Homo sapiens: one gene and its partners. The protein of the gene in region 4 purifies or fractionates together with the protein of the main gene of each other region. This does not show direct contact. Each region holds a gene or a part of one and is shown on either strand. Other genes may lie near its edges.

Evidence for each region.
Region 1: the proteins of GLOD4 (region 4) and TALDO1 fractionate together in Homo sapiens (co-fractionation; one large-scale study listed by BioGRID). This does not show direct contact.
Region 2: the proteins of GLOD4 (region 4) and NRG1 purify together in Homo sapiens (affinity purification with mass spectrometry; one large-scale study listed by BioGRID and IntAct). This does not show direct contact.
Region 3: the proteins of GLOD4 (region 4) and OSBPL11 purify together in Homo sapiens (co-immunoprecipitation; one large-scale study listed by IntAct). This does not show direct contact.

Annotation. Positions count from the first base shown.
Region 1 is NC_000011.10:758,408-764,463, reverse strand, and holds part of TALDO1 (transaldolase), read right to left. Parts: intron 5,515-6,056; coding exon 5,407-5,514; intron 4,343-5,406; coding exon 4,211-4,342; intron 1,121-4,210; coding exon 945-1,120; intron 718-944; coding exon 520-717; intron 177-519; coding exon 31-176; intron 1-30. UniProt on the Homo sapiens protein: Catalyzes the rate-limiting step of the non-oxidative phase in the pentose phosphate pathway. Catalyzes the reversible conversion of sedheptulose-7-phosphate and D-glyceraldehyde 3-phosphate into erythrose-4-phosphate and beta-D-fructose 6-phosphate.
Region 2 is NC_000008.11:32,767,452-32,773,125, forward strand, and holds part of NRG1 (pro-neuregulin-1, membrane-bound isoform isoform HRG-alpha proprotein), read left to right. Parts: 3' UTR 1-5,674. UniProt on the Homo sapiens protein: Direct ligand for ERBB3 and ERBB4 tyrosine kinase receptors. Concomitantly recruits ERBB1 and ERBB2 coreceptors, resulting in ligand-stimulated tyrosine phosphorylation and activation of the ERBB receptors.
Region 3 is NC_000003.12:125,577,178-125,583,233, reverse strand, and holds part of OSBPL11 (oxysterol-binding protein-related protein 11), read left to right. Parts: intron 1-255; coding exon 256-324; intron 325-3,193; coding exon 3,194-3,369; intron 3,370-4,194; coding exon 4,195-4,274; intron 4,275-6,056. UniProt on the Homo sapiens protein: Plays a role in regulating ADIPOQ and FABP4 levels in differentiating adipocytes and is also involved in regulation of adipocyte triglyceride storage. Weakly binds 25-hydroxycholesterol. Interacts with OSBPL9 to function as lipid transfer proteins.
Region 4 is NC_000017.11:760,741-766,521, reverse strand, and holds part of GLOD4 (glyoxalase domain-containing protein 4), read left to right. Parts: intron 1-2,682; coding exon of another isoform or gene 2,683-2,832; exon of another isoform or gene 2,833-2,960; intron 2,961-5,781.

The DNA of each region.
Region 1 (6,056 bases), on a different chromosome or scaffold from region 4:
CATATGTAGGTACCCACACACAACACTCACTGTCAGCATCCGCTCCAGCTTCACTGCATCAGCGGCAAACTTGCGGATCCCGTCAGAGAGCTTCTCCACAGCCATCTGGTCCTCGTTGTGCAACCAACGGAAAGACTTCTCATCCAGGTGGATTTTTTCCAGGTCACTGGCTTGGGCTGGGGGACAAGAACCAGCCTTCCATGCCTGCTCCATGTCCCTGCCCACCTTGGCCCCTTGGGCTCAGGGCCTGAACTGCTGCACCCAAGCATCTCCCACCAGGGCCAGGCCTTGGCCCCAGCAAGGCTCACGCTGGAAGTGGGGTTCAGCCCACAGAGCCTTGGCTGATGACTTGAGTGAGATGTGTTAGGAAAGCCAAGCCCTCCGTTGAGGTCTACTTCACCCTCATGTCTCCCAAGATGAGCTCGCCCCACAGGTGGGAGGGATCACCCACAGGGCAGCGTGGCACGGCAGTGCTGGCCTTGCCCGAGCAGGAGCCACAGCTGGGCAGTGGGGCCTCACCCGCCTTGGCTGAGAGCACAGGCACCAGCTTGGCGTTGTCCTGCAGCAGCTCTCCCAGGAGCTTGGGTGAGATGGTGAGGAAGTCACAGCCGGCCAGTGCTTTGATCTCGCCCGTGTTGCGGAAGGAGGCGCCCATGACAATGGTTTTGTAGCTAAACTTCTTGTAGTAGTTGTAGATTTTAGTGACACTCTTTACCCCTGGAAAGAGACCAAGCTGTGACCAGGAAGGCTTCGGCAGAGGTACCACCCCACCTGCCCTCCCAGTGCCTGCCGGCTGCACTACCTTGAGCCGCCACCCCTGCCTGCCCCGCGCCGACCTGTGCACCTCACTGCTTGTTGATGCGGCAGCTCCGTCTCGGGCTCTTCCTGCCTGAGGTGCTGCTGAGGCTGCTCCCCTTACCCCATTACCACAGAGGGACCCTCACCAGGGTCTTCCAGGGGCTCATAGGATTTCTTGTCGGTGTTTGCCACATGCCAATCAAGGATGCGCCCAACAAATGGGGAGATGAGGGTCACACCCGCCTCGGCACAGGCCACAGCCTGGGCGAAGGAGAAGAGTAACGTCATGTTGCAGTGGATGCCGTGCTGCTCCTCGAGCTCCCTGCGGGGCGGGGACAGGTGAGGGCGGGGCAGGTGAGGGCGGGGACAGGTGAGGGCGGGGGCGGGTGAGGGCGGGGACGGTGAGGGCGGGGATGGGTGAGGGCGGGGGCGGGTGAGGGCGGGGGCAGGTGAGGGCGGGGCAGGTGAGGGCGGGGCAGGTGAATGCAGGCCAGGTGCCCACCCAGAGCCACAGGCTGCCAAAGACGCTCACGGGCCTTAAACTAAAAAGGCAGGAACAGGCTCATGCCATTGTTAAGAACAAATCGGTAAGACTCGAGGGCTCTAAGTGGATAGTGGGTTATGGGTGACCAGGATTTTCTCCAACCCACATGACACAATAGACAAAGGCAAGGGAGGCCCTCTGGGTGCCCGTGCTCTTGCGCCAGGCCGTCACCTCATCCCAGAACTCACCAGGGCTCAGCTCCCAGGCTAGAACCACTGAGTCATCTCTGACCACATTCCAGTCCTCACCCTGTTCCACCCTACCCATTCCTGGGGCCACCCTGCAGCAGGCCCGTAGCACCCTGGTTTCTGCTGAGAGGAGCCCCTTGGCCTCACTAGGCCACTTGCCCAAATCCCAGTGCACTTTGGACATCCTGGGGTTGATCCCCAAGGACGGAGCAGTGCCCATACTTTGCCATGTGGCTGGGGCATGGGATGAGACAGCCAAGGCTCTGCTCAGGCACCTTCAGACACAAGTTCCCTCCCCAGGCGCCTCTGCCACATGGCCACACGGGGGTGTTCGAGGGGGACAGCAGATGGCACAGCTGAGTTGGGAAACAGCCTGCAGTTCCTCCAGCAGTCACCCAGAGACTCCACTCCTAGGCATATGCCCACGAGAAACAAAAACACATGTCCAGGACAAAACTTGCACATCTGTGTTCAGAGCAGCAGATGTGTTCATAGCAGCAGATGTGTTCAGAGCAGCAGCATACATCACAGCCCGAGAAATGGAAACCGACCACAGCAATATACATCACAGCTCAAGAGATGGAAACTGACCAGGTGTCCACCAACAGATGAATAACTGTGGCCTATCCATAAAATGGAGTATTTTCCAACATATAAAAACAAATGGTCCGGCCAGGTGCAGTGGCTCAAACCTGTGATCCCAACACTTTGGGAGGCCGAGGCGGGCGGATCACCTGAGGCTGGGAGTTTGAGATCAGCCTGACTAACATGAGAAACCCCATCTCTACTAAAAATATAAAATTAGGCGGGAGTGGTGGCGCCTGCCTGTAATCCCAGCTACTCCGGAGGCTGAGGCAGGAGAATCTCTTGAACCCCAGAGGTGGAGGTTGCAGTGAGCTGAGATAGCACCATTGCACTCCAGCATGGACGAGAATGAAACTCCGTCTCAAAAACAAAAAAAAACAAAAAAACACACAAATGAGGCCAGGCACAATGGCTCATGCCTATAATCCCAGCACTTTGGGAGGCCAAGATGGGTAGAGATCTCTTGAGCCCAGGGGTTCGAGACCAGCCTGGGGAACGTGGTGAAATTACCCAGGAGTGGTATGTGTGCTTGTCATCCCAGCCACTTGGGGGACTGAGGTGGAAAGATAGCTTGAGCCTGGAGTCAAGGCTGCAGTGAGCCAAGTTCGTGCCACTGCACTCCAGCCGTGGTGAAAAAGTGAGATGCTATCTCAGAGCAGGTCAGTGATGGCAGGTGGTAGAACATGCAGACACACAGATGTGGAAACAAAACACCTCTTCCTGATGCGAATTATTTGAGTATAGCATTGGCTGCTTCTGGGTGAGAACATCATAGAGGAGTTTTACTTTGTTTTATACATTTTCTGTCTCTTCCACTCTGAACGTACATATGTTTGGTTTGGTTTTTCTGAGACAGGGTCTCACTCTGTCACCCAGGCTGGAGTGCAGTGGTACGATCATAGCTACTGGAACCTCAACTTCCCAGGCTCAAGCGATCCTCCCGCCTCAGCCTCCTAAGTAGCTGGAATCACAGGGGTGGGCTAGTTTTTCTTTTCTTTTTTTTTTTTTTTTTTGAGATGGAGTCTCATTCTGTCACCCAGGCTGGAGTACAATGGTGCAATCTCGGCTCACTGCAACGTCCACCTCCCAGGTTGAAGTGATTCTCCTGCTTCAGCCTCCCATGTAGCTAGGATTACAGGCACCTGCCACCACGCCCAGCTAAATTTTTTGTAGTTTTGGTAGAGACGGGGTTCCACTATCTTGGCCAGCCTGGTCTCGAACTCCTGACCTCAGGTGATCTACCCACCTCAGGCTTCCAGAGTGCTAGGATTACAGGTATGAGCCACCGTGCCCGGCCTAAAAGTTTTCTTTTCTTTTTGAGACAGAGTCTTGCTCTGTCACCCAGACTGGAGTGCAGTGGTGTGATCTCAGCTAACTGCAACCTTCGCCTCCTGGGTTCAAGCAATTCTCCTGCCTCAGCCTCCTAAATGGGACTACAGGTGTGTGCCACCATGCCCGGCTAATTTTTTATATTTTTTAGTGGAGTCGGGGTTTCACCGTGTTAGCCAGGATGGTCTCGATCTCCTGACCTCGTGATCCCCACGCCTCGGCCTCCCAAAGTGCTGGGAGCCACCGTGCCCAGCCTAAAATTTCTTTATATTTTTGTAGAGACAAGGTTTCACTTTGTTGCCCAGGCTGGTCTGGAACTCCTGGGCTCAAGTGATCCTCCCATCTCAGCCTCCCAAATTGCTGGGATTACAGGCATGAGCCATCTTGCCCAGCCAGCATATATTTTATATAACAATAGTTTACTTTTTAAAAATCATGTAAACATAGGCTTGTGTTGATCAGGACAGAGGAAGGACAGAATCTGAATCTGCAGGTGCTAACTAGTGGCTTTTCTTCTCTGCTGAGTGGGTGGATGGTACTTCCTGGGAAATCCCTCATTTCTGATCACCAGCAAGTGAGGGAGCTGGCTCTGGAGCAGAGGGCAGATCTAGGCTGACATGAGCTGGTCAAGTCCAAGCTGTGGGCTGTGCTCCCCAGTCTGGCATTCCCCAGGGCTGAGAGAGTCAAACTTGCCTGATGCCATGTAGACCCTGCTCCAACAGAGGAAAAATCTCTGAGAGCTCCTTCCTTGTGGGGGACCACTTACTTTCCAGCCTGAATTCCTTCCCAGGTTGATGACAGCTTTATAAGAATTCGGTCCTTGCTGATCCCAGCTTCCTTGTAGAGCTCGATGAGCCGCCTGGCTCTGGCCACCATCGCATCTTTATCAAAGGAGAGCCTGTAGGAGCAAGAAGAACCCATCCCCTCAGATCACGCAGGTTGCCCACCACGCAGAGCAAGCTGGAGGCCGGGTGTCTGCCTGTCAGTTTTGAGCAGCACCACCGTGAGCACCAACCACTGCCCTCAACCTTCCCCTCACTGGAGGTTTGCAGAATGGCTCTGACAGCAACTCACACCCAGTCTCACAAACAGAGGTCCTCAGTGGGATCCATAGGCTATAATTTGTATTAAAAAACACTGGGCCAGGTGCCGTGGCTCACGCCTGTAATCCCAACACTTTGGGAGGCTGAGGCGGGAAGATCACAAGGTCAAGGGATCGAGACCATCCTGGCCAACATGGTGAAACCCTGTCGCTACTAAAAATACAAAAAAATTAGCTGGGTATGGTGGCGGGTGTCTGTAGTCCCAGCTACTTGGGAGGCTGAGGCAGGAGAATCGCTTGAACCCGGGAGGTGAAGGTTGCAGTGAGCTGAGATCACACCACTGCACTCTACACTGGCAACAGAGCGAGACTCTGTCTCAAAAAACAAACAAAACAAATCAAAACAAAAAACACTAGCAGCCGGGCACAGTGGCTCATGCCTGTGATCCCAGCACTTTGGGAGGCCGAGGCAGGTGGATCATGACGTCAGGAGTTCAAGACCAGCCTGGCCAAAATGGTCAAACCCCATCTCTATTAAAAATACAACAAATTAGCTGGGCATGGTGGCAGGTGCCTGTAATCTCAGCTACTTGGGAGGCTGAGGCAGAGAAACGCTTCAAGCCGGGAGACAGAGGTTGCAGTGAGCTGAGATTGCGCCACTGTACTCCAGCCTGGGTGACAGTGCGAGACTCCATCTCAAAAATAAATAAAAATAAAAATAAAAAACACTAGAGATCAGTTGCTAAACAAGGAGCTCTTGGTCATCACTACCAACTGTGGGAGAGCTCAAAATAAACCTCCTCTTGGGCCCTTGGGATGAAGACCATGGGTGGAGCAGCCCCTTGACCTCATGTTGGCATCCACGTGTGCAACTGTGGACACCTGACCAGCCCATCCAGTGCAGGAGCAAGCATCCTTACCTTGCGTCTACTTCTGTGGATACTCGGCCCGGAATCTTCTTTAGTATTTCTGCTCCAAACAACACAAAAAGTTTATCAATAGCATTTTTAATCTGGTCCTCTTGTGACCTGAAATTCAAAGGGAAAAAAAGCAGGTTAGAAGCTTCTGAGGTTCGCCAGGTGCGGTGGCTCACGCCTGTAATCCCAGCACTTTGGGAGGCCGAGGTGGGCGGATCATGAGGTCAGGAGATCAAGACCATCCTGGCTAACACGGTGAAACCCCGTCTCCACTAAAAATATTAAAAAATTAGCTGGGCATGGTGGCGGGTGCCTGTAGTCCTAGTTACTAGGGAGGCTGAGGCAGGAGAATGACGTGAACCTGGGAGGTGGAGCTTGCAGTGAGCAGAGATCGTGCCACTGCACTCCAGCCTGAGCGACAGAGCGAGACTCCATCTCAAGAAAAAAAAAAAGAAGCTTCTGAGGTTCAAGTGCACAAGACTCTACAAAATAAATTCTGTTATTTCTTTGCCAAATTTCCTTCCCTCCATCTTTTTTTTTCTCTTAAAACATTTTTTTATTGTGGCCAAATAATACATATAACATAAAATTTCCCATCTTATCCTTTTTTTTTTCCCCCAAGACAGGGTCTCCAGCTAAGGCTGGAAGCACAG
Region 2 (5,674 bases), on a different chromosome or scaffold from region 4:
AAGAGAAATGTAGGCAGAAGGAAATGGCCACATATCACAAGTTCTATTATATATTCTTTTGTAAATACATATTGTATATTACTTGGATGTTTTCTTATATCATTTACTGTCTTTTTGAGTTAATGTCAGTTTTTACTCTCTCAACTTACTATGTAACATTGTAAATAACATAATGTCCTTTATTATTTATATTTAAGCATCTAACATATAGAGTTGTTTTCATATAAGTTTAAGATAAATGTCAAAAATATATGTTCTTTTGTTTTTCTTTGCTTTAAAATTATGTATCTTTTCCTTTTCTTTTTTTTAAGAATAATTTATTGTTCAGGAGAAAGAATGTATATGTAACTGAAACTATCTGAAGAATGCACATTGAAGGCCGTGAGGTACTGATAAACTAAAGAATTTATTATTCAAAATACTAAGCAATAAGTAATTGTGATTTATTTAAAGTTTTGTCCATTTTCCATGAAAGACATACTGCAATAAAAATGCTACTCTGTGGAGACCTGGGAGTGTTGCTCAGCAGACTACAGCTTCAGTCTGTTAGACCAGCACCTTTCATCTCATTCCCATAGTTATGCTAATTTAGGATTGTGTTCCATGGACCCCATGATCACCTTGTCTATACGTTGCTTCTTGTCTGTCCATTGCTTTTGCCACACCACCTGTTCTCAAATCATCTCCTCCCTACCAATGCTGTTTATCACTTTCTTCCTTGTTGAAGAGGCCACACAACCAGACAGTACTATGCTTCCTTTTTCCTCCATACACAATAACAGAGAGAGAATATTCTAGGGCATGACTGCCTGGATCCTGGCTGTTGCTATCTTTTGTAGTGGCAGTAAGAAACTCCTTCAGACTAATGAAAATGTCAACGTGCCATTCAATCACGAAAGGTAACGAAAAATGCTCTCATGGTTCAAATAGTCCAATGGCCCATAGTGGCCTAAAAGGCAGCCAGTTGACACCTGGCCATGCTAAGCTTCCTTATACCATCCGCTAATGACTTTCCATTGGGCCCACAATTTACGGATTCATAATTTTAAAAGAGGAGAAGGCCAAGTTAGGTTCATTCCCCTTATTCTGTCAATAAAACAAATCAAACTCATGTCTATCTAACTGCTCAGGGAGGAGCCTTTGCATGAGAAAATTCTCATATTCTAAGACTGAGTCATAGAAATGAGGGTATTACTTTTCTTACTGCAATTAACCTAAACAAAAGCCATATTTTAACAAATAGATATTTGCATGGTACCCTTCATATATTCCAAGCATTTCACTCATTATTCCAGGTAGGTTAAGAGCTTCTGAAGTGTATGAAGTAAAGGTCAGCAATCCTTTGGGGTGAACAGTGGCCTCCTTTGGAGTTTGGGGGTAACCTGAGACTTCCCACCAATGTCCACCTCCATCTGTGTACCTAATTCCTATTACCTAGTTATGGCTCCTCTAGGATCATTTCCAAACACTCTGGATGTCCAGGAAATTTAAATTGTAGCTTTTGACTGAGCTAGTTTTTCCTATTTATATTAATAAATTTTCAAAAATGCTTGAAATCTTCACATTTGCAACAACTTTAGTTTTCATGCACATACAAACACAGAGAGACAAAAATTCCAAACAGACACTCTCCAAAAGCCACCACACTCTTTCACTTGCTCTATAGTCATTTAGCCAACCAGCCATGCAGAGAATATTTAAAACTTAAAGATTGAGACATTATTCTCAGTTTTTGCTGAGGCTTTGTAACGAAATTGAACACTATAAGCAGCTATTGTAGTAATTTTGGTTAAAATTGTTTGCCTGGGATATAGTATTTGAGGCAGAAGCACGTGTGTGAAGGAGGTGAGGTGGTTTGGAAAGAGTGAAGACTCGCAGCCAGATTGAATGTCTGGATAATTACTATAATTCTCCCTTCTTGGTTGAAACCATGTTCTCTCTTGATTTTTAAACCCAGGCTGCCTCTGGAAACAAGCAAACCTGAGTCTTTCTAACCTGAGTCTTCCCAATCATTAGATTTCTTTTCTGTCCTAACGATGAATGATAAAAGGACTTGATGTTCACAATTTGGGGTTATAAGGCAGGTCTGAAATCTGGAGACTCAAGATGCTGGAAGGAGTGGAAAGTTTCGATGACTTTATATGAATCACTTTGCACTCTATGTTTGGCTTGTCCTCTTTGAAACTGATTTACTAAAATAAATGTAAGGGAACTATTACTCCAAAAGATTAACTTGGCAGGAAATACCAATACTTTCAGTTTATGAAAGACAAAACTGTCTTGTTGCTACAGGAAGCTGCAATGTTCCTAACCTTTAAGGTTGGTGTTGAATAGGGTGGTCATGCCCTCCCCTGCAGGTATCTTTAGGCTCCTGTTGACCTCCTGGTACTATAACTGTTCGTCTTCTCTGGGTAGCTATTGATTTTGAACTTTAACATGCTTCAAAACTTTATTCATCAGGGAAATAGGAAAAGAGTTTTGTTACCTGGAGGAAATCTATTGTGATCTACCTGAGCTTTTTAAAAACAGACCAGGAGAAGGAAACCAGTAATTTTTAAAGAAGAGACAGAGAATGGGATAATAGTTTCACCCAGGATCTCTTTCTAACCCTTTCCCTTCAAATGAACTTATTGGAACAGAATTGGAAAGAAGAAAGGACATCTCTGCCCACCCCACAGGATGCCAAAAAGGCTAAAGAATTACCTCTGTAGATTTAAACATCTTTAATGGCTTATGTATAGATTTGCTAATACAGAGAGAAATGAACTATTAAATAAAAATCACATTTTATAATATTTTTATGGCTTAAAACATCCTTTATCTCCTTTTTGTTCTCTCTACATGATATGGTAAGTGATGAGGAAAATTTAGGCTCAGGAAGGTTAAAATCTTTCTTGGAGTTACACATCTAAGAGAGCTGCAGAGCTGACACTTGTACCCAGGTTTTCTGACTGCAAATCCAGTTTCTTTCTATTGCGTTCTTCCCCTTTCCCTGCCTCAAGCAGAAACAGGTTTTTTATTTTCAACCTTTATGTATACAGTATGTTATGTTACATCTACAGCTAAGTTTCTTTTTAGAAGAATGTGAGCCCTTCTAGCTTTGGTTTAGAGTGATTCTAGAAGCCAATTTCCTTGGCTTAGTGATTCTATGCACCTTTCCTAAACTTAGCTTTCTAAGGAAATGAAGTGTACGAGTGAGAATGAATTCACAATTTCGACATGTAGGTAGCATCCTAAAGTGAAAAGAGGAGGAAATTTGTGGTCAAAGCACTCTCCCCACCACTTAGAAACTTACTGACTGTGGGCAGCTTCCTCCTCCAAGTTTCCTTCCTGATTTACAAGACCGTGGTGTGGTCAGGATTAAACTTGAATACATGTAAGGAAGCCTGAAAGTGTCTAACACATAGCGAGTATTCAAATGCCACCTTCTATTTGATCCTTCCCCTCCAGTTCCTTAAGTTTTGGAATCTAGGTTTCTCAGTTCCAAATGGATTGACATTTGCATATCCCCATTGCACAATGGATCAAATAAACTTTATGTTATCATTTCTCCAACATAGTGCCAGTAAGCAAATCCTTTTTAATAACAACAGTATGTTGAGAAACATATCACCAAATAATATTTAACTTTGTAGCTTTGATAAGTTCTTTAGGTTTTGGTTTTGGTTTTGTTTTCTGAGACAGGGTCTTGATCTGTCACCCAGACTGGAGTGCAATGGTTCAATTTTAGCTCACTGCAACCTGTAACTCCTGAGCTCAAGTGATCCTCCCACCTCAGCCTCTCAAGTAGCTGGGACTACAGGTGTGCTCCACCATGCCCAGCGATTTTTTTTTTTTTTTTTTTTTTTTTTTTTGGTAGGGACAAGGTCTCGCTATGTTGCCCAGGCTGGTCTTCAATTCCTGGCCTTAAGTGATCCTCCTGCCTCGGCCTCCCAAAGTGCTGGAATTACAGGCATGAGCCACCACCCATAACTTTATGTTTGTTTTTTTGATGCAGTATAAGTTCAGCTTGCTTCTTATGCAGCCATACCATTTCATGTTAACTCTGATTTTTAGCAGCTTATTACATTAGTGTTTTATTATTAATATAATTTTACAGAAATTTACTAAACCATGACTCTGTAGAGTTTTAATAATACTACCTCCAAACATCATTGCAAACATCTAGAAGAATGAACAAAAATGATCTTAGATCGACAGTATATCTGTTTGTCTTAGTTTCTACACAGGATGTTCAGACATATTCCATTTCTTTAAAAAAAAAATATATATATATATATATATATATAGGCCTGGCACGGTGGCTCATGACTGTAATCCCAGCACTTTGGGAGGCTTAGGCAGGCAAATCACCTGAGGTCAGGAGTTTGAGACTGGCCTGACCAACATGGTGAAACCTCGTCTCTATTAAAATTACAAAAATTAGCCGGGCGTGGTGGCACATGCCTGTAATCCCAGCTACTCGGGAGGCTGAGGCAGGAGAATCACTTGAACCTGGGAGGCAGAGGTTGCAGTGAGTTGAGATCACGCCATTGCACTCCAGCCTTGGTGACAAGAGTGAAACTCCGTCTCAAAAAAAAAAAAAATATGTATATATATATATATATATATATATATATATATATATATATATATATAAAATCCCACCAAAAGTCTGCAGAGTGACCAAATTAGACGGCTCTGGTTTCAGATTAAATTCTAAATGTGAGAAACCACATAGCTCCCATGATCCATCCAATAATTCCTCACGTCCTCTTCACTCTTTACTCCATGCATAAAACAGAATTTTTTTTTCTCATCCTGGGTATGAAGCAATTAATAATTTACGGATTTAGCCTATTTGGATTCAATCCCTTCAAACTCCATACTACATCCAAGGTGGAAGTGACTTAAACTCTGATATCAATCATCAGGCTTGTAATATAGGCTTTGTTAATGGCAGGAGAGTCTAATAAAACTTTCTGTTCCTTATCCTTCATTTAAATGAAAAACTTTTTATTGAAAACAATCATAACTCTAGCTCATCATAAATATAATTCATGAGGACATTTTATTATTTTTATATTAAAGAAATAATATTATAGATGTAAACTTTGCACCTTTCTAATTATTATCATGAGTTAAGCTAATACTTGTCTTCTGGTCCCTAGATGATGATTCTTTTTTGCCTTACTGGAGGAGCCCTTGTCTTGAAGTGAGTTGCTTCAACAGCAGAGGACTTCTAGTTTCTCCCAGTTGAGCCTAAAGTGAACTTTTCATCTTCTTCAGAGGAAGGGGCTTCCTTGATTTGTACTTTTGTGGCTCCTCAGATAACACAGACAATTTTATCTTGGATCCCAGGTTCTCTTCACCATTAAGAATAAGAAAGAGAGAAAATGCTGTGCATGACAGCCACCTACTCCAAACTACCCAACCCCCTGTAACCAGGTACCTTCCAACAACGAGATGATTCTGCCCTCACTCAAGAGTCTCCCCCACAAAGATTCCATTCTCCCTTTACTTTTTATTTTTTATTTTTTTGCAAAACAAAGGCCTCCTTTAGTACCTCCTTAGTTTATAACCCTTATCTTCCCAGCTCTTCCCTTCACTGATACCTCTGATTTCAAAAGTTCTGAAGTCGGAAGACCACACAATTTCAGACTGTGAACAGAAATTCAGTCAGAAATTATTGGAG
Region 3 (6,056 bases), on a different chromosome or scaffold from region 4:
TTTTACATTTGGAATATTTATAATAATATATAATTTATGAGGTATTGTACTTGTTTTGAGGAAATTGATGAAGTCCTATAGATATGAAATTTGGGAGATTAAATGCCTCTGTTGACCTATACATTTTACTTCTCAATAAAATTTGAGGCATTTATAGAGCATATATGTATCTGCAGCTATTTTGAAAATTGTACCATTATCCTCCTGGGATTTCTTCTAATTTTTACTAACTTTGGCTTTTTCATTTTGAAATAGTGATCACATGGAAAATGTGTATGGCTATTTAATGAAGTATACCAACCTTGTCACTGGGTGGCAGTACAGGTAAGTGTGATTATTTGTGTCACATCAGTCTCTCCTAAGAGAGCAGGAATAGGGCCCAATAATTTTATATTTTGATATTACTTTAGACAGACATGGCTGGGAAACCTTTTAGAGAAGGATTTCCCACAGCTTCTAAAAGTTTGGTGACTTCTTCTTAGAGGGTGGGAAAAGTTGACATCTGTCCAAGTAGCAGCCTCTAAATGCCTCAGATGTTACTATTAAATGAGGATTAGAATCACTTGTTACCTGGCTTGGGCATTGTATACTTGCAGAAGTTAGGTTCTTAGGGGAAGAGAAATAGGGGTTTGGAGACAGCAAACACATTTGTGTTAGGTTCCCATCTTATGCCAGATTCACAGCTTCTCTGGGATCTTGAAGAGGTTAAGTAACCAGCCAAGGGTCACACAAGCTGTCAGGAAGCAGGAAAACCAGCTATCTCAAATACTTTATAGAATTGTAGTTGTGGGGCAGGCATATTAAACGGGATCAAATTGTCTACCAAGTTCTATTATAGAACAGGCTAACGTAGAATGCCAGACTTCTCCAAACCCAAACATGAATTTTTTTTTTTTTTTTGAGACGGAGTCTCGCTCTGTCACCCAGCTGGAGTGCAATGGCATGATCTCGGCTCACTGTAACCTCTGCCTCCGGGGTTCAAGTGATTCTTCTGTCTCAGCCTCCTGAGTAGCTGGAATTACAGGCATGCGCCACCATACCCAGCTAATTTTTGTATTTTTAATAGAGACGGGGTTTCACCATGTTGGTCAGGCTGGTCTCGAATTCCTGACTTCAGGTGATCTACCCGTCTTGGCCTCCCAAAGTGCAGGGATCACAGGCGTGAGCCACCACACCTGGCCACCCAACATGAATTTTAAAAGTTTAAAACTTTTTAGAGTTACTTTTTATTTTATATTAATTAATTAATTAATTATTTTTGAGACAGGGTCTTGCTCTGTTGCCCAGGCTGGAGTATAGTGGCATGATCTCAGCTCACTGTAACCTCCACCTCGGGCTGAAATCATCCTCCTGCCCCAGCCTCCTAAGTAGCTGGAGCTACAGGCATGCACCACCACACCCATCTAATTTCTGTATTTTTTTTTGTAAAGACAGGGTTTTGCCATGTTGGCCAGACTGGTCTCGAACTCCTGGATTCAAGCAATCTCAACTCATCCAGCCCTTTTTAGAGTTACTTTTTTTTTTTTTTTTTTTTTTTTGAGATGGAGTCTCACTCTGTCACCTAGGCTGCAGTGTAGTGGTGCAATCTCAGCTCACCGCAACCTCTGCCTCCAGGGTTCATGTGATTCTTCTGTCTCAGCCTCCCAAGTAGCTGGGATTACAGGTGCACGCCACCTCGCCCAGCTAGTTTTTTGTATTTTAGTAGAGACGGGGTTTCACCGTGTTGCCCAGCCTGGTCTCAAACTCCTAAGCTCAGGCAGTCCACCCGCCTTGGCCTCCCAAAGTGCTGGGATTACAGGTGTGTGCCACCGTGTCTGGCCTAGCGTTCCTTTTTTAAAAAGGGGCCAGATGAGGTGACTCACACCTGTAATCCAAGCACTTTGGGAGGCCGAGGCGGGAGGATCGCCTGAGTTCAGGAGTTTGAGATCAGTCTGGCCAACATGGCAAAACTCCATCTCTACGAAAAATACAAAAATTAGCTGGGCATGGTGGTGGGCGCCTGTAATCCCAGGTACTTGGGAGCTGAGGCATGAGAATCGCTTGAACCTGGGAGGCAGAGGTTGCAGTGAGTCAAGGTGGTGCCACTGCACTCCAGCCTGGGCAACAGAGCACGACTCCATCTCAAAAAAAAAAAAAATTATTACACTACTTAAATTGGAATTTCTGAAATGTATTTTTGAAAGTAGTTAATCTAGAACCAAATCAGAATTTTTTTTTCCAAAGTGTATTAGTATTTCATCAAATTCTTTTCCAGAGTGTATCAGCATTTCATCATTTAGTTTCAAGGTCCTTATGTTTCAGCATCTCCAATTGCAGCTTTTTCATTTTTAAACAGGAGAAGTAATCTTTAGTTTTGACTTATTTAATGATTCATTCACAAAATCTTTTTTACCCTGTTATTCTTGTTGTATATTTCACTAATTCTTAAATCACAATGCATATCTTGCCTAGTATATCTTGCCTTAACCTCAGAGCTCATATTTTGATTTATTTCCGGTGAATTTTAAAGAAAAATTTTCACTACCATTTGTCCTTTGGCAGTTTACCCTCTGTTAATGAATTCTGGGGAAAAATCTGTCTCTGAAAGGATATGGTATCTTTGCTTCCTTTTGTGCATTAACTGATAGGCCTCTTAATAAATGCCTCTCCCTCAGCTGAAGGGTTTATTATATCTTTTATTAAACTCATTCAATTTTTTTTTTTTTTTTTTTTTTTTTTTGAGACGGAGTTTTGCTCTTTTTGCCCAGGCTGGAGTGCAGTGGCTCGATCTTAGTGCAGTGCAACCGCTGCCTCCCAGATTCAAGCGATTTTCCTGCCTCAGCCTCCCGAGTAGCTGGGATTACAGGCATGCACCACCACACCTGGCTAATTTTGTATTTTTAGTAGAGATGGGGTTTCACCATGTTGGCCAGGCTGATCTCGAACTCCTGACCTCAGGTGATCCGCTCGCCTCTGCCTCCCAAAGTGCTGGGATTAGAGGCGTGAGCCACTGCGCCTGGCCTAACTCATTCGATTTTTAGTAATCTTCCCTGCTGGAAAATTCAGTGTAGTGTTTCCAGGTACCTCTTGAAATGCTTTTAAATTTTATTTTTAAGAGCAAAACCCTGAAATGTGTAAGTGATTGAAGTTTGCTTTGCTTTAGTTTGCTGAGGGAAAATGTTTACAAATTATGGATTTTAAAAAATCATTACAGGTTTTTTGTTTTAAACAATGAAGCTGGGCTGTTGGAGTACTTTGTGAATGAACAGTCTAGAAATCAGAAACCTAGAGGAACTTTGCAGCTTGCAGGAGCTGTAATATCACCCAGTGATGAGGATTCTCACACCTTCACTGTAAACGCTGCCAGTGGGGAACAATATAAACTCAGAGGTATGACCAAAATATGAGAATTAATACTGTGATTTTCCTCTTTTTTTGAGAAGTTGGTGTCTTACATGCTTTCATATGGGCTTTGGAAATAGAAACTGCTGTCATCAGTGATGTAAATACAATATTCTGAACCTTGGAACTGCTTTGAGAATTTATGAAATCTTTTGTAATAAGTAACTGTTTTCAAGTGGGACAATGTATGTTTGTTTAGGACTGGCCCCTCTGAAAAACGGTGTAGGTGAAACTCTGATTACTGAAAATCTAGAAACATAGACTTTAAATGATATTTTTTATGTATTTCACCCCTTTACTTGGTTTAGTTTACGTGCCCTTTTTGCAGTTTTCAGTAACTAATGTACATTATTGGGATTTATTATAATGTCATTCATTAAAATAACGTATAACTTCTGTTAAGATAAATTTAATTTGTGTAGAAGTTTTTTATTTAATGAATACACAAAGTATAATGGTAATCCTAAGTGAGCGTGCTCCTGCAGATCTGAAAGTATTGATTATACATCAAATAATTAAGGGGTTATTTCTTTAAATAAGAACCTATTTTTATGAGTTGCAACATGTCAGTCTCTCATCCTCACCTCACTGCATGTAATTTCTCCTTTTAATGAAGTAACTACATCCAGCTACTGTGTTCCCTAACAACGTTGGTGCTTTGGCCTCTTTCCTGCCTCCCTCCAGTCAGGGAAGTTTGCTCTAGTGAGAGTAAGACCAGTATCTGCTTTTCAGTGATCTGATCTTCATACTGTAGGCAATTAATTGTGTTCCAGAATAAATAAATATAAAATAATTTTTACATTCTTTTAACAGCTACAGATGCAAAAGAGCGACAGCACTGGGTTAGCAGACTTCAGATATGTACACAGCATCATACTGAAGCTATTGGAAAGGTATGTAGATTTATATACAATATTAATATACAAAAATGAGGAAGGAATATTTTTTATTTTTTGCCTTTTAAAATTGAGATACTATTCATATACCGTAAAATTCACCCTTTTAAAGTATATACGTATAATCCTGTGGTTTTTAGTATATTCACAAGGTGGTTCAACCATTGTAACTTTCTTTTTTTTTTTGAGACGGAGTCTCTCTCTGTGGCCCAGGCTAGAGTGCAGTGGCGCAATCTTGTCTCACTGCAACCTCTGCCTCCCGGGTTCAAGTGATTTTCCTGTCTCAGCCTCCCAAGTAGCTGGGACTACAGGCACACACCACCACACCCAGCTTATTTTTGTACTTTTAGTCAAGACAGGTTTCTTTACTAAAAAAAGTTGTTTCTTTACTAAAAATGTTGGCCAGGCTGGCCTCGAACTCCTGACCTCAAGTGATCCGCCCACCTTGGCTTCCCAAAGTGCTGGAATTACAGGTGTGAGCCACCGCACCTGGCCAAATTGCAGCTTTCTAATTTCAGAACATTGTCATCTCTCCCACAAAAAAAATAAAAAATCCGGAGCCACTAGCAGTCACTCCCTGTTCTCTCCTTCCCAATCCCCTAGCAAACTCTCTTTTCTATTCCATGGATTTGTCTATTCTGGGCATTTTATGTAAATTGAACCATATAATATGGGGTTTGTTGTATCTGGTGTCTTTCATTTAGCATGTTTTCAAGGTTCATCCGTGTTGTTGCATGTATCAGTACTTTATTCGTTTATTCCTTTTTTAAGACTGAGTAATATTTTATTGTATAGATATACTACTTTTTTAATCCATCAATTGGTGGACATTGGGTTATTTTCATTTTGTAGGCATTATGAATAATGCTGCCATGAACACTTTCAAGTTTTCATAATGAAAACATTCATTATTTTAATGAATAACATTATAAGTGTTCAAGTTTTTATGTGAACATATGATTTCATTTCTCTAGGGTCTGGGAGTAGAATTGCTGGATCACGTGATAGTTCTATGTTTAACATTTTGAGGAACTGCCAAACTGTTTTCCAAAGCGGCCACACTTTTTTACATTCCCATCAACAATATATGAGAGTTCTAATTTCTTTTTTTAATTTCTTTTTTTTTTTGAGATGGAGTCTCACTCTGTTACCCAGGCTGGAGTGCAGTGGCACGATATCAGCTCACTGCAACCACCGCCTCCCGAGTTTAAGCAATTCTCCTGCCACAGCCTCCCAAGTAGCTAGGACTACAGGCACCTGCCACCACGCCCGGCTAATTTTTTGTATTTTTGGTAGAGACGGGGTTTCGCCATGTTGGCCAGGCTGGTCTCGAACTCTTGAGCTCAGGCAATCCACCTGCCTCAGTCTCCCAAAGTGCTGGGATTACAGGTGTGAGCCACCACGCCCAGCGAGAGTTCTAATTTCTGTACATCCTTGCCGACACTTGTTATTGTCCTTTAAAAAAATTATTATGGTTATCTTAGTGGATATGAAGTGGAATCTTATTGTGGTTTTGATTTCATTTTACTAATGACTAATCATGTTGAGCACCTTTTCGTGTGCTTATTGGTTAGTCATTTGTATATCTTCTTTGGAGTGTTTTTAAAAATATTTTTCAAGGTGAAAGGAGAGTCTCATTACTTGAAATCTGAGGTTAGAGATGTCTAAAAATTAATATATGGGCAGCATATTTAAAGGATTTCGTACCTAGGTGATAACTTGGCTTTTACTATTTTTTTTTTAATCGTTCTTCCTGGTGGTTTCCCCCAGAAGTGAATT
Region 4 (5,781 bases):
CGGGATCAAGCGATTCTCCTGCCTCAGCCTCCCAAGTAGCTGGGATTACAGGCACGTGCCACCACGCCTGGCTAATTTTTGTATTTTTAGTAGAGACGGGGCTTCACCATGTTGGCCAGGATGGTCTTGAACTCCTAACTTCAGGCGATCCGTCTGCCTTGGCCTCCCAAAGTGCTGGGATTACAGGCGTGAGCCACCACGCCTGGGCCCATTTTTTTTTTTTTAAGACGGGGTCTCTCTCTGTCACCGAGGCTGGAGTGCAGTGGCATGATCTCAGCTCACTGCAACCTCCGCCTCCTATGTTCCAGTGATCCTCCCACCTCAGCCTCCCTAGTAGCTGGAACCATAGGCGTGCGCCACCATGCCTGGCTAATTTTTGTATTTTTTCTAGAGATGGGGTTTCACCATGTTGCCCAGGCTGGTTTCAAACTTCCTGGGCTCAATCATTCGATCCATCTTGGCCTCCCAAAGTGCTGGGATTATAGATGTGAACCATTGATGAACTCCTGCTCCCTGAGCTCTCTTCTCCTCTGCTGTTAGCGATCCTGCCATTTTTCTTTTTTTTGAGTTGGGAGTCTCACTCTCTTGCCCAGGCTGGAGTGCAGTGGCGCGATCTCAGGTCACTGCAACCTCTGCCTCCCAGGTTCAAGCAGTTCTCTTGCCTCAGCCTCCTGAGTAGCTGGTAGCTGGGATTACAGGCACGCACCACCACACCTGGCTAATTTTTGTATTTTTAGTAGAGATGGGGTTTCACCATGTTGGTCAGGCTGGTTGAGTAGGCCGGGTGCGGTGGCTCACACCTGTAACCCCAGCCCTTTGGGAGGCCGAGGCGGGCGGATCACAAGGTCAGGAGATCGAGACCATCCTGGCTAACACGGTGAAACCCTGTCTCTTGAACTCCTGACCTCAGGTGATCCACCCTCCTCGGCCTCCCAAAGGGCTGGGATTATAGGCGTGAGCCACTGCGCCTGGCCATCCTACCATTTTCATCTTCCTGACAGTTTCTCCTCAGACACGGGCACCTCTTTCTGTGTCTCATCCCAAAGTGTTTTTATACCCATAGCCCTACTTTGCTGTTTTTCCCATTCTGCATTCTTCCTCCACTCTGATGAGAGCTTACCTGCGACCTCTCCTTACCTCTGCCCTGAACGTAACCATCATCCTGGCTCCAGCCTCCTCACTTCCAGTTTTTAACTCCTTCCTCAGCTCAGACAGGTGGTTGTTGTTGATGAGGCATAATTTAGGTAGAATTTAAATGTGTTTTGACGGTTGTGTTTACTCATACAACCACTACTCAGAATACAGACCATTTTCCCAGGAAGTTCCCTCATGCCCATCTCCAGTGAGTTGGCACCTTCATCTCCCAGATCAGCTGCTATTCTGACTTCTGTCACTGTAGGTGAGTTCGTTCTTGGACTTCATACAAATGGAGTCATTCAGTATTTTCTTTCCTTTTGTGCCTGGCTGCTTTTACTCACCATGGCTTTTTTTGTTTTTTGTTTTTTGTTTTTTTTTGAGACGGAGTCTCGCTCTGTCACCCAGGCTGGAGTGCAGTGGTACAATCTCTGCTCACTGCAAGCTCCGCCTCCCGGGTTCACGCCATTCTCCTGCCTCAGCCTACCGAGTAGCTGGGACTACAGGCACCTGCCACCTCGCCCGGCTAATTTTTTGTATTTTTAGTAGAGACGGGTTTCACCGTGTTAGCCAGGATGGTCTCGATCTCCTGACCTTGTGATCCACCCACCTTGGCCTCCCAAAGGGCTGGGATTACAGGTGTGAGCCACCGCGCCCGGCCTACTCAACATGGTTTTGAGATTCCACCATGTAATTGCATATCACAGCTCTTTTTTTTTTAATTGCTGACTGATACTCAATTTTATGAATATAACAATTTGCTCATTCATTCTTATAATGGTGGACATTTGGTTTATTTCTAGATTTTTTAATCTATTATAAGGAAGACTGCCATGAACATTCTAGTGTAAATCTTCTTGTAGATAGATGTTTCATTTCTCTTGAGTAAATACCTAGGAGTAGAACTGCTTTTACTGTATAAGAAAGTGTCAAACAGTCATCGAAAGTGATCGGACCATCGTTTGTCCACGAGAGGTCCAGTAGGTCTACATTCTCACCAACACTTATTTTGCTTTTTGTGGGTTTTTTAGCTATTCTAGCACATGCGAAATGGTTTCATTGGTGCAATCAAGCGATCCTTCTGCCTCAGCCACCACATAGCTAGGGCTGCAGCACTATGCCCAGCTGATGTTTTTTATGTTTGTAGAGACAGATTCTCACTGTGTTGCCCAGGCTGGCCTCCAGTGATCCTTCCAGCTCGGCCCCACAGAGGTTTAATTTTTATTTCCCTGATGACTAATGATATTGAGCACCTTCTCATGTGCTTATTAGCCATTTACTTATTTTTGTGAATTTTATGTTCAAGTCTTTTGTCCATTCTTTAATAATTTTTAATATTTCATGATGAAAATTCCAAATATGCACAACCGAAGAGAGTACGACAGAGCCTTACGTGACTCTTACCTTGACTCTGTACTGTAGTTTTTCATCATTCCTTCGTCACTTGCAAATTCAAGTATTTTTCCCAGCCATTAATTGAGTTTTTGAAGATGAGGAATTTTTTATTTTGGTGAAGTCCAGCTTATGAACTTTTTCTCTTACATGTAGCACTTTCTCTGTCCAGACCGATGTTATATCCTGAGAACCTCTTCACCTAGGAAACCTACCACATATCAGACTCAGCGTGTCCATAACTTATCTTACCTCAAATCCATTCTTCTTCCAGTAATATTACATAAAGGCTACTTGGGAGTGTAGATTCTGGGAAACCTGAATCTATGTTCCCGGGCTGCAGTCTTCAAGCTTGGCCCAGATGAACTCTCTATTTATACTAAAAATATGTAAATAAATAAAAATAAAAAGAAATAAATGCTACTATATCGGTACGTTCTTAAGTGCTTTATTTTTATTTATTTATTTATTTTTTGAGATGGAGCCTCACTCTGTTGCCCAGGCTAGAGTGCAGTGGTGTGATCTCAGCTCACTGCAGCCTCCGCCTCCCAGGTTCAAGTGATTCTCCTGCCTCAGGAGAGTAGCTGGGATTCCCGAGTAGCTGGGATTACAGGCACCCGCCACCATGTCCAGCTAATTTTTGTATTTTTAGTAGAGACAGGGTTTCACCATTTTGGCTAGGCTGGTCTCGAACTCTTGACCTCAGGTGATCCACCTGCCTCAGCCTCCCAAAGTGCTGGGATTACAGATGTGAGCCACCGCATCCAACCTTAAGTGCTTCATATACATTCTCTGATTTTTTTTTTTTTTTTTTAGACGGAGTCTCGCTCTGTCGCCCAGGCTGGAGTGCAGTGGCGTGATCTCGGCTCACGGCAAGCTCCGCCTCCCGGGTTCACACCATTCTCCTGCCTCAGCCTCAGCCTCCCGAGTAGCTGGGACTACAGGCGCCCACCACCACACCTGGCTAATTTTTTTGTATTTTTAGTAGAGACGGGGTTTCACCGTGTTAGCCAGGATGGTCTCGATCTCCTGACCTCGTGATCCGCCTGCCTCGGCCTCCCAAAGTGTTGGGATTACAGGCGTGAGCCACCGCGCCCAGCCACATTCTCTGATTCTTAATATAACCTGCAAGGTTGATAGCATCAGCCTTTGCAAATGAGGAAACCGAGGCTAAGAATGAGTAAGTCATTGGCCCTCACCCTTGAATACCATACACTGAGTAAGTGGCAGGCAGGGGCCTGGATGGTGATGAAATTATTCCCCTTCATCCCTGAAGATCACGCACTGAGTAGGTGCAGGCCGGGGCCTGGATGGTGATGAAATTATTCCCCTTCATCCCTGAAGATCACACACTGAGTAGGTGCAGGCAGGGGCCTGGATGGTGATGAAATAATTATTCCCCTTCATCCCTGAAGATCACGCACTGAGTAGGTGCCGGCCGGGGCCTGGATGGTGATGAAATTATTCCCCTTCATCCCTGAAGATCACGCACTGAGTAGGTGCCGGCCGGGGCCTGGATGGTGATGAAATTATTCCCCTTCATCCCTGAAGATCACGCACTGAGTAGGTGCAGGCCGGGGCCTGGATGGAAGCCTTTCAGGCTTTACAGTTAGTCCTTTTTCTTCCTCTGCGCCCTGCTCCCTCCCTGGACAGTACAGCGTGTCTGTGATCCCAGTTGTTCACGCTGGAATCCTCAGAGCCAGTTTTGGTGTTATTTTGTTGTGTTTTGTTTTTTAACATTTAATAGTCGTTTTAGATTTACAGACAGTCACTTTTGACCATTATTTCTCCTCATCCTTAAATTATTTTAGCTATTAGTCACCAAGAGCTGTGAGTTCTACCTCTGAAATGTCTTCTGCCTATCAGCTTTCCCTTTGAAAGGCCTCATTGTCAACTTACGGTCTGTCCCAAAGCAAACAGCCAGTAATTTTTAAAACCGTTTAATCCGATAGCTCTCTCTTGCCTCTGAGATAAATTTCAAACTCTCTGACAGAGCATGTGACATTTTTGGACATTCTCTACCCTCTGACCTTCTTTCCCACCTGCCTCCCTAAGTCCCCTAACTCATCCCTATTCCAGTCCCACTGAACTGGTTATATTAGCTAAGATACTTCTTCTTGCATCCAACCCAAAGGGTTTTTTCCCTCTCCTCTTTTACTTGTCCTTCAACACTTAAAAGCTTTCTTAGGTTCAGCCGGGCGCGATGGCTCACCCCTGTAATCCCAGCACCTTGGGGGACCAAGGCGGGTGGCTCACCTGAGGTCAGGAGTCCCAGACCAGCCTGACCAACATGGTGAAACCCTGTCTCTACTAAACACAAAAAATTAGCCAGGCACGGTGGTGTACGCCTGTAATCCCAGCTACTTGGGAGGCTGAGGCAGGAGAATCACTTGAACCCAGAAGGCAGAGGTTGCAGTGAGCCGAGATGGCGCCGTTGCACTCCAGCCTGGGCGACAAGAGCAAAACTCCATTTCAAAAAAGAAAAAAAGCTTTCTTAGGTTCTCCAAATAATTTAGTTGTTCTTTCCTCCCACTTTTTATGGCTCCTAAAAGACAGAAACGTGCATATTTGTGACTTGTGGTTTTTTTAAGCATATCTTTGATTTTTAAATTCTTATTTTCATCAAGATAATAAATCAGATAGTACTAAGATTTTTTAGAAATGAAACGGTCCAACTCTGAGTCACACTACCTAGGACAGCCACTTTCACCTTCACTGTTTCTAAATAATAAATATATTTGTTTCTTCTTTTTCAATTGCCACCTCATCTTGTGACTTCCTGCTGAGGTAGATATTATAGCAAATGCTTCAAGACACACACATGCGTACACACACTCTGTCATGCAAAATACTTGTTTCCATATCTGAGTTCTCAGCTGTTCTGCACACTCCTCAAAGCTTCCGACTGTCTCTGCTGCCACATCTGAACCCAGCGTGGTACCTGGCTCTTTTTGACTACATAAATGAGTGTTTGTCCTTACTAAACAACGAAAGGGATGCTTGTGGAACCAAAACATTATTGTTAAGGCTTTGTATTATTCATTTATTTTTATTTGTATCTGTATGTATGTATATGAGACGGGGTCCCACTCTGTTACACAGGCTGAACTCGAATTCCTGAGCTCACGTGATCCTCTGGCCTCAGCCTCCAAGTGGCTGTGACTATAGGTGTGACCACTGGGCACGGCTTAAGGCTTCCTTTTTAATTAAGATGCCCAAACTAAACAGAACCAACATCAGAAGAGTAGGCCGGGA